2 separate regions of the Homo sapiens genome follow, and region 2 is linked to region 1. Evidence: fine-mapped expression QTL. A gene starts in region 1. The other region holds a variant in brackets. All regions are shown on one strand. Distances are from middle to middle. Region 1 holds the start of ATG2A (autophagy related 2A). Region 2 has its middle 12 kb from the start of BATF2.

Evidence for each region.
Region 2: its variant is fine-mapped to the expression of ATG2A in whole blood (TOPMed, PIP above 0.99).

Annotation. Positions count from the first base shown.
Region 1 is chr11:64,913,948-64,919,317 of GRCh38, forward strand. ATG2A (autophagy related 2A) reads right to left here and starts at 3,262. Exons shown (of 41, transcript NM_015104.3): 1 at 3,018-3,262; 2 at 391-553; 3 at 134-286. The coding sequence starts at 3,188. It also overlaps a transcript of PPP2R5B not described here. RefSeq lists a silencer at 3,174-3,483 and an enhancer at 3,534-3,663.
Region 2 is chr11:64,982,303-64,987,672 of GRCh38, forward strand. No RefSeq gene overlaps it. Among named protein-coding and RNA genes, the nearest start is that of BATF2, 12 kb to the right of the region's middle. The variant T/C (reference allele first, on the strand shown) is at 2,508.

The sequences.
Region 1 (5,370 bases):
GGTCAGGTAGAGCAGCAAAGGGGAGGCAGAATTTCCCATCTGGGCACCAGGGTGGCCGTGCCGTTGTCTGGAGCCCCTGTTCTGTGTGCCACTGAAGGGCAGGAGACAGGGCGGCCAGGAGGGGCCTGCTCACCAGTCTCAATGGTCTGGGCAAACATCTCCAGCCCCTCCAGGGGCTGTGGTGGCTCAGAGGGCTCCGGTAGCCCATCCCGCAGACACTCCTGGGCCAGCTGCAGGCTTGTGGTCATGCATGAGGCCCAGCTCTGTGAGTCGGCAGCCCCTGGCGCTGTAGGGAGAAACAGGGTCTCAAGGCAGGCAGGCCCAGTCAGGTCCTGGACGCCCCAGCCCACTCTCCCCACTTGCCTGCCCCCAGCCTCGCCCTGCCCTCACCTGGACCCCGGCGGGGCTGCAAGGTGAGCTGGAGGCCGGACACGCGCACTGTGCAGTGGTCGGTGAGCAGAGCAGCCCAGGGCACGGCCACCTCGATGGAGCCCACGAAGCCTTCCACCAGCTCCAGCGGTGACTCCATTGACTCCAGCACCTCGTTCACAGACTGGGAGCAAGCAAGAGACAAAACCAGCTCAGGGAAACCCCAAATCCCACAGGCTGGCACAGCCTTATCTGGCCATAGTGCCTTGGAGAGCACCCTTGGCTTGCCCTGTCCCTCCACGTGTTATCTACAAGGTCCCACCTATGCTCATGCTGTCCCCTACTACAGGCCAGCCCCCCTACCCCGTCACCCAAAGGTGCCTAATCCTTCAAGCCAGAGCAGATGTTTCCCTCACCACTTAATTCAAGATAATATTTACCGAGCACTTTCTACATGCTGACACTGAGACTAGATGGGTAAATAAAATGTCTTCATTCCCCAGCCAAGCTAGGCTCCAGCCAGGGACTCAGAGCAACTAGGATGAAACTCAAGAGGTGAGCAGGTGCTTGGGGGTGGTGAGGGGGCTGGTGGGGGGGCCGTGGGGAAGACGCCTAACCCAGCCTGGGCCGTCAGAGGAGGGGCAAGCTGAAGAATAAAGGGAGGGGGGATAGGCGCTGGTAGAAGGTGGTGTGTTGCAGGCACAGGACAACATGGGCACATGTATGGCAGAGTCCAGAATACCCATGTTCACCCTGGATGAGCAGAGTTCAAAGGGACAGTGTCCAAGAGAGGGGCTGACCTAATGCCAGATGGGACCCCCCCCCCCCACCACCAACCCCAAACACCTAGTGTAGCTGTGCCTCTCTGTGAGGCACAAGGCTGAGCCCCTGGCTAAAATGTCCATGCTGGAGTTGTACCCCTGCCAACCTGGAAGCTCCTGGAGGGCTGTACCCCACCTGCCTCCCCCGTCACCCCAGGTGCCACCCAGAAAGGGCCTCAGTAAACTGGTTGGATCCAAGAATAAAAAAGCACATGGCAGAGCAGATGGGAGTCCAAATTCCTCACCCAGAGACCCACAGCTCGGGAAACTGAGGCCTAGAGACAGGACTAATCTAGTCACCCAGTATACAACAGGGACTGAGACTGGGATGCGGGCCTCTTTCTTTTCATGCCACTTCAGAGGCCCCAGATACTCAGTTTCTTTGGGGGCCTTCAAGGCGGGGCCTGCAGGCTGAGCTGGGAGGGAGGAGGGGCTGGTTATCAAGAAAGCGCCTGCATTCCACCAGGGCCCTAGAGAAGCCAATTCAATCCCCAACAAGAGGGCAGGGAACAGGAGTAGGGGCGTTTTCTGGAGCTGAAAGTAAAAAGGGGAAGCCTAGGGCTGGGTATGGTGGTTCATGCCTATAATCTCAGCACTTTGGGAGGCTGAGGTGGGAGGATCCCTTCAGGGGTTCAAGGCTAGCCTGGGCAACATAGCGAAATCCTGTCTCTATAAAAATAAAAAAGGGGCAGCCTAGAGACGGCCTTAGAGGCTGAGGCTAAGGTTAGAGGTCAGAGAGGGCTTCCTACACCAGAATTCACAGACAGCAGGCCACTGGGGGGTGCCCCCAGTTCAGGGCCCACGATTATCCTACCCCACATTTGCTCACCAGGGCCTGGCCTACCCCCAAAGCCTAGCTCTTCTGCCCAGATTAGCAGCCCCCTGAGTCCAGCCACAAAACTGAGAAGTCCCTGCCTCCATGCCCACCCCTGCTGCTCTGGACCTGGTGGATCGACCAGGACGCGCCTCTAATTGGTGGCTCCTTCAAAGCTCCCCAGGTCAGCTGAGCTGTGAGTCAGGGCTCCTCACCGTTCCCAGCCTCAAGCCTCTGACCTTACACCTCTTGGCCTCCCTAGCATCTCCCTTGGCCTCCTCCCGGCTTGAAGCCAGATCTCCCCACCTTTCCTCCAGGGCCTCCCTCCAGGCAGGGACACTGAGCCGGGGGGGTCGGTGGGAGATGTAGGTGGGGGCCATCCAGTCCCTCCCTAGACACCCACTTGGCCCATCCCACTCTCCCAAAAGCAGGAAGTAGGCAGCGACCCAGGCACACGAGGTGTTGATCAACACTGGTACTGACGTACTGACGCGGTTGTTGACATACACATCCGGTGGTTTGTTGATCCCACCTACGGGCTCAGGACCGTGGGGTCAAGAGGTCAGGGCACATGATCCACAGGTGTCCTCGCCAGGGCTCCGGACCCCTACCAGCTTCCCCCACCAGCTGCGCAGGCCCAAGTCTGTCACTGCCCTGGCCCAGCTCAGTTCCTACGCTCCCTCCCCAGCCCCTCCTCAGCCCGAGAGCCAACCTCCTTAACTCAGCCCCCAAACTCGACGAGTTTGTCTTGCATTCTCCAGACAGGTGATCTTGCCCTCTCCAGCCTCAGTTTCTCCTCCCGTGGAGACAGAAACCCCTTCCCGCTCAGTTTCTGGCTCTGGTAAGGAACTGAAGAGGCCAGCCGGGGTGCCTCTGACGCCTGGAGAGGGCAAGATTCCCCTGGCCTCTCTACGCCCGGTGCCTGATCCCCCAGCCCGATCCTGCCGCAGGGAGCCTCAGGTCGCTGCGCTCCCACCCTCCGCACCTTCCTGGACTCGGGCCTGGCTCCTCACCCAGATTTCCAGGTGGATGTCTCGCAGGGCAACGCTGCCCTTGTACAGATCGAGGCTGAGCTGGTCCAGGCTGAGGTGCTCTTGGAAGAAGTGACCTAAGTAGTGGTGCAGCAAGTAGCGGCAGACCCGCTCTTTCACACAGTTTGACCATGGCCACAGCCATCGTGACATCTCGGAGACCGCCGGGCCTGGGCCGCCTCCGCTTGCCGCCCGCCGGCGATCCCCGTCCGGCTCCGCTGTTCACTAGAGCCCCCGGCTCGCCCCGCCGCTTCTCTAGGCGCCAGGCCGCGCCTCCGGACGCCCAGCCACGCCCCCTACGCTCACTGTCATTGGCTATTGCAAAGGGCGAGGCCTACTGATTGGCTGCGCGGGGCGGAGCCTTCGGGCGCGAAAAAGGGACTGGGCTCTCTGCATGATATAGGGCTCTCAATCATGATTTACGCTTGCGTAAAGTACTGTGTGGGAGGACCTTTAACCTCCCCTCTACAGGCTCTGGGAAGGCTGTTGCTCCAGGTGCCGGCCCCTCAAAGGAATGCGCATGTGCTGATTCGTCCAACCACTTTAAGTGGTTGGGGAGGATTTAAAGGGACAGTGTCCCATCAAACTTCGTAGAAGCCTTCCCCAGAGGAGTAAACTCAGTGCGCGATCTTAAGCGCGCATCTGTGGAAACAATTAAGTGAGTAAACATTCGCATTTTGCAAAATCTTTTACCATCCTTTATCTCATTGAGCCCTCTTAATAATCGCTCAAGGTAGGGATTATTGCCACCGCTTTACAGGTAAGAAAACAGATTAAGATACGAGAAAGACCCTGCCTCAAAAACAAACAAAAATAAATAAGGGCTCTGAATCCATCACCAAGGAAGGTCTTTTTTCCCCTCCTCACCCCGGAATGCTCAGAGGGAGATTAACTGACCCTCCCTTCTCTCTGCCGTCGGTCAGGCCTTAGGCACCTCTCTGAAATAATAATAGCTTTTCATATCTCTAGTCCTAAAATCAAAGAATGGATTCTGCCTCCTTTAAGCAGGGGGGCATTGTTTTTGTACGGCCTTTGAGCTAAGTATGGTTTTTATGTCTTTTAAATGGTTAGGGGAAAAATCAAAAGAAGAATGAACTTTTCATGGCATGTGAAAAATCATATGAAATTCACATTCCAGTGTTTATACATAACGTTTTAGTGTCACACAGTCTTGCTCATTTGCTTAAGTTCTGCCCCGGGCTGCTTTCTTGCTACAAGAGCAGAATTCAGTACTTGAGACAGAGGCCTGCAAAGCCTAAAATATTTATTTTCTGGCCCTTCACAGAAAAAGTTTGCCAACCGCTGCTCTGTAGGGGGCAGCCACACAAAACCTCTTACATCATGGGCGACTTCAGGAACAGCCATAGGTAATTATGTTTCTTTTCTTTTCTTTTTGAGACAGACTCTCTCTGTCACCTAGGCTGGAGTGCAGTGGCACAATCTTGGCTCACTGCAACCTCTGCCTCCTGGGTTCAAATGATTCTGCTGCCTTGGCCTCCCAGAGTAGCTGGGATTACAGGCATGCACCACCGCACCCAGCTAATTACCGTGTTGGGCAGGCTGGTCTCGAACTCCTGACCTTAGGTGATCAGCCTGCCTTGGCCTCCCAAAGTGTTGGGATTACAGGCACGAGCCACCGTGCCCGGCCTATGTTTCTATTTTATTTATTTTTTTTGAGACAGAGTCTTGCTCTGTTGCCCAGGCTGGAGTGCAGTGGTGCAGTCTCCTCTCACGCAACCTCTGGCTCCTGGGTTCAAGGAATTCCTGAGTAGCTGGGATTACAGGTGTGAGCTACCCCACCTAGCCTGTGTTTCTATTTTAATCTTACTTGGGAGCTGGACTCTTACATTCTAATGCCAAAACTCAGCCTGAAGCAAGGGCAACCGCCCTGGCCCACCGGGCAGGGACCTGTATTCCAGTCCCACCCATGGGTGGTTTCTTCTCCTCTTGTGACCCTCAGTTTTATCCTATGTAACTGGGGTTGGGTTAGTAAGTGGAGATAGTTCATTACCTGGAAGGAGCAGGCTCCATTCAGGGAGGCAGGCTGATAGGACAGCCATTCAGAAAGTGCTTATGGGCCAGGCACGGTGGCTCATGCCTGTAATCCCAGCACTTTGGGAGGCCAAGGCGGGTGGATCATGAGGTCAGGAAATCGAGACCACCCTGGCTAACACAGTGAAACCCCATCTCTACTAAAAAATATTTAAAAAATTAGCAGAGTGTGATGGCGGGCGCCTGTAGTCCCAGCTACTCGGGAGGCTGAGGCAGGAGAATGGTGTGAACCTGGGAGGCGGAGCTTGTGGTGAGCCAAGTTTGTGCCACTGCACTCCAGCCT
Region 2 (5,370 bases), 68 kb after region 1:
GCCACTGTGCCCAGAATTGTTGCCCATTTTTAAATCAGATTATTAGGTTTCTTTCAAGAAAATAGGAAGAAAAATTTTTCAAAAAAGATTATTAGATCTTTTCCTAGAGAGTTGTTTGGGCTCCTTATATATTCTGGTTATTAATCCCTTGTCAGATGGGCTGACCTCTTCTTACCACCTCACTGCTTCCATTCACACCCCTGAACAATCTGATCTTTTTTAAATGTCGGGCTCCCTGATTCATGGAAAAAAGGCAATGCCCTTGCAGTGGTCTGTATGATCTGGCCCTTGGTTACCTCTCTGACCTTATCCCTGACCAACTGACCATCTCTGACCCTCCTTCATTCCCTCCCTCCAGCCACACCAGCCCCCTGGCTCAAATGTTTCAGGCTCACACCTGCCCCCAGGCCTCGGCACTGGCTGTTTCCTCTGCCTGGAACTCATCTCCACCTGGCTAATTCACTGCCTTCTTCAAGACCTTGCTCAAATGTCCTCTGCCTTTTTTTTTTTTTTTTGAGACGGAGTCTCACTCTGTCACCCAGGGTGGAGTGCAGTGGCGTGATCTCTGCTCACTGCAACCTCCACCTTCTGGGTTCCAGAGATGCTTGTGCCTCAGCCTCCCAAGTAGTGGGGACTACAGGCATGCGCCACCATGCCCTGCTAATTTTCTTTTTTCTTTTCTTTCTTTCTTTTGTTTTTGAGATGGAGTCTTGCTCTGTTGCCCAGGCTGGAGTGCAATAGCATGATCTCAGCTCACCGCAACCTCTGCCTCCTGGGTTCAAGCAATTCTCCTGCTTCAGCCTCCCAAGTAGCTGGGATTACAGGCATGTTCCACCATGCCCAGCTAATTTTTTTTGTATTTTTAGTAGAGATGGGGTTTCATGTTGGCCAGTCTGGTCTGGAACTCCTGACCTCAGGTGATCCGCCCACCTTGGCCTCCCAAAGTGCTGGGATTACAGGCGTGAGCCTCTGTGCCCAGCTGCTAATTTTCTTTTTGTGTGTGTGTATTCTTAGTAGAGAAGGAGTTTGAGTTTTGCCATGTTGGCCAGGCTGGTCTTGAACTCCTGGCCTCTAGTGATCTGACCACCTCAGCCTCCCAAAGTGCTTGGATTTGAAGCCACTACACCTGGCTTCAAATACTCTCTTCCTATTGAACTGACGTTGACCACTCATTTTATTTTATTTTATTTTATTTTATTTTATTTTATTTTATTTTATTTTATATTTTATTTTATATTTTATTTTATATTTTATTTTATATTTTATTTTATTTTATTTTATTTTATTTTATTTTATTTTATTTTATTTTATTTATTTTATTGAGACTGAGTCTCGCTCTGTCACCCAGGCTGGAGTGCACTGGCGCGATCTCGGCTTACTGCAACCTCCACCTCCCAGGTTCAAGTGATTCTTGTGCCTCTGCCTCCTGAGTAGCTGGGATCACAGGTTCCTGCCACCACACCTGGCTAATTTTTGTATTTTTAGTAGAGACGGTGTTTTGCCATGTTGGCCAGGCTAGTCTCGAACTCTTGACCTCAAGTGATCCTCCCACCTCAGCCTCCCAAAGTGCTGGGATTACAGGCATGAGCCACCGCGCCTGGGCGACCACCCTATTTTAAATTGTACCTTCTCCACCCTGACCCTCTCAATTCCTCTTTTCTTGTCTTACCCCTCTTGACCCAGCTTCCCTATTAAATATAAGCATTTTTGTCTGTTTTGTTCTCTTCTTTATCCCAAATGCCTAGGATAGTGTTTGAAAAGAGGAGCTGAATATATTTTAAATGAATTTAAAAATCAGAGGCTGGGCACGGTGGCTCACGCCCGTAATCCCAGCACTTTGGAAGGCTGAGGTGGCTGGATCAATTGAGGTCAGGAGTTCGAGACCAGCCTGGCCGACATGGTGAAACCCTGTCCCTACCAAAAATATAAAAAATTAGCTGTGCGCGGTGGCAGGCACCTGTAATCCCAGCTACTCAGGAGGCTGAGGCAGGAGAATCTCTTGAACCCAGGAGGCAGAGATTGCAGTGAGCCAATATCGTGCACTGCACTCCAGCCTGGGCAACAGAGCAAGACTCCGTCTCAAAAAAAAAAAAATCAGTGTACATCTCTGTTTAAAATTCTCCCACTCACGGCTGGGTGTGGTGGCTCACGCCTGTAATCCCAGCACTTTGGGAGGCTGAGGCGGGCAGATCACGAGGTCAGGAGATCGAGACCATCCTGGCTAACACGGTGAAACCCTGTCTCTACTAAAAATACAAAAAATTAGCTGTGTGTGGTGGCAGGCGCCTGTAGTCCCAGCTACTTGGGAGGCTGAGGCAGGAGAATGGCGTGAACCCGGGAGGCAGAGCTTGCAGTGAGCTGAGATCGCACCACTGTACTCCAGCCTGGGCAACAGAGCGAGACTCCATCTCAAAAAAAAAAAAAAATTCTCCCACTCACACAGGAAGAATCTCACATCCTTCTCATGGCTTACACAATTTTTCTGGCCTCTTCTCAGACTTCATCTT[T/C]CCTTTTCTCTTCCCTGATTCTCCTCCTCCTTTCTTTTCTCTTCTTCTTCTTCTTTTTTTTTTTGAGACAAGTCTTGCTCTGTCACCCAGTGTGCAGGGGCATGATCATGGCTCACTGTAGCCTTGACTTCCTGGGCTCAAGCAATTCTCCCATCTCAGCCTCTCGAATAGCTGGGACTACAGGTGCATGCCACCACGCCCAGCTAATTCTTTGAATTTTTAGTAGAGACAAGGTCTTGCTTTGTTGCCCAGGCTGGTCTCAAACTCATGGGCTCAAGCCACCTCGGCCTCCCAAAGTGCCGGGATTAGAGGTGTGCACCACTGCGCCCAGCTGGCCTACTCCTTTCTGTTCCTCTAACATGTTTAGTGCTTTTTCTTTTTTTTTTTGAGGCGGAGTCTCGCTCTGTTGCCCAGGCTGGAGTGCAGTGGCGCCATCTCGGCTCACTGCAAGCTCCACCTCCCGGGTTCACACCATTCTCCTGCCTCAGCCTCCTGAGTAGCTGGGACTACAGGCGCCTGCCACCACGCCCGGCTAATTTTTTGTATTTTTAGTAGAGACAGGGTTTCACCGTGTTAGCCAGGATGGTCTCAATCTCCTGACCTTGTGATCCGCCCGCCTCGGCCTCCCAAAGTGCTGGGATTATAGGTGTGAGCCACCGTGCCCAGCCTACGTTTAGCGCTTTTTCCAGACCCGGAGTTTTTACACATGGTATTGCCTCTGAGTGGCATGTTCTTTCCCTAGATCTTTGCATGGCTGACTCTCTCTTGTCATTCTCATCTTGTCAGGTCTCATCCTGAATGACACCTCCTGAGAGACCCTTCCCTTGAATTCTCTATTTTTTTTTTTTTTTTGAGGCAGGATCTCACTCTGTCATCCAGACTGGAGTGCAGTGGCTCGATCATGTCTCACTGCAGCCTCGACCTCCCTGGCTCAAGCAATCCTCCCACCTCAGCCACCCAAGTAACTTGTTTTTCCGCCCAAGACGGAGTGTTGCTCCATCGCCCAGGCTGGAGTGCAGTGGTGTGATCTCGGCTCACTGCAACCTCTGCCTCCCGGGTTCAAGCAATTCTCCTGCCTCAGCCTCCCGAGTACCTGGGATTATAGGCACCCGCCACAATGCCCAGCTAATTTTTGTATTTTTATTAGAGACAGGGTTTCACCATGTTGGCCAGGCTGGTCTTGAACTCCTGACCTCATGATCGCCTGCCTTGGCCTTCCAAAGTGCTGGGATTATAGGCGTGAGCCACCGCGCCTGGCCAAGCATTCTTTATTCAGCTTTTCAGTAGTCCATCACATGAGTGTACCAGCATTAATTGAATCACTCCCATCTATTTGTTTGAGGGTGGGGTAGAGTTTTACCTTCTTGGGTCATATCTATTAGCATGTGCTGCCCCTGAAGTCTGGGCCTGCAATGAGAATCCAGGAAGGTTGAAGGCTGGGTTGCCTGCAGCTAAGGGCTCCTGATTGTTGAACCAAGTCTATATAGTTTCCTAGCTATGTGACCTTGGACTTATTACTTACTACCTCTGGACCTCAGTTTCCCTTTCTCTCTCTTTCTTACAGCTCTAGCTCAAAGACAGTTTCCTCTTCTGAACAGTGGGGTTGAGAAGCATACGTCACAGAGTTACTAGAGGCATCATTGAGTTAATCCAAGTAAAATAGCACAGAGCCTACTATACTTTAGGGTATACAGATACAGCACGACCATGCTGTCCTCATCCTCCACTGAGTCCTCGTGCCCAGAGTATGTTGAATCCTGTCCCAGACTCCAGCCCACCTCTAACCAACAGCACCTTCGCTTCCCTCCCACCTGTTTGCTTTCCCTGAATCGCTGGTGACCATGGCTCTGCTGCCATCCACAGCCCTGTGACTTCCCTTTGCTATGTGAACCTGGCACAATGGTTACTTGTATGTGTCCTCTTGGCTGGGCCACAGTGCCCAGATATGTGGTCAAACATTATTCTGAATGTTTCTGTGAATGTGTTTTTGGACGAGATCAACATTGAAGTTGGTGGGCTTTGAATAAAGCAGGTTGCCCTCCATAATGTAGGTGGGCCTCATCTAATCGACTGAAGGCCTGAATAGAACAAAAAGACTAACCTTTTCCAAGCTAGAGTAAGTTCTGCAGCTGGTGGCCTTTGGACTTGAACTGCAACAGCAGCACTTTCCTGGGGCTCCAGCCTGACAATTCACCCTGAAGAATTTGGACTTGCCAACCTCCATCATCACATGAGCCAATTTCTTAAAATAAGTCTCCCTTGGCAGGGCGTGGTGGTTCACGCCTGTAATCCCAGCACTTTGGGAGGACAAGGCGGGCAGATCACTTGAGGTCAAGAGTTCGAGACCAGCCTGGCCAACATGGTGGAACCCCATCTCTACTAAAAATACAAAAATTAGCTGGGCGTGAGGCTGGGTGTGGTGGCTCATGCCTGTAATCCCAGCACTTTGGGAGGCCGAGGCAGGCAGATCACAATGTCAGGAGATCGAGACCATCCTGGCTAACATGGTGAAACCCTGTCTCTACTAAAAATACAAAAAAAAAAAAAAAAAAAAAATTAGCCGGGCATGGTGGCAGGCGCCTGTAGTCCAGGAGACTGAGTCAGGAGAATGGCGTGAACCCGGGAGGCGGAGCTTGCAGTGAGCCGAGATTGCACCACTGCACTCCAGCCTGGGCGACAGAGCGAGATTCTGTCTCAAAAAAAGGAAAAAATTAGCTGGGTGTGGTGGTGGGCACCTGTAATCCCCACTACTTGGGAGGCTGAGGCAGGAGAATCACTTGAGCCCGGGAGGCGAAGGTTGCAGTGAGCCGAGATTGCACCATTGCACTCCAGCCTGGGTGACAAGAGTGAAACTCCATCTCAA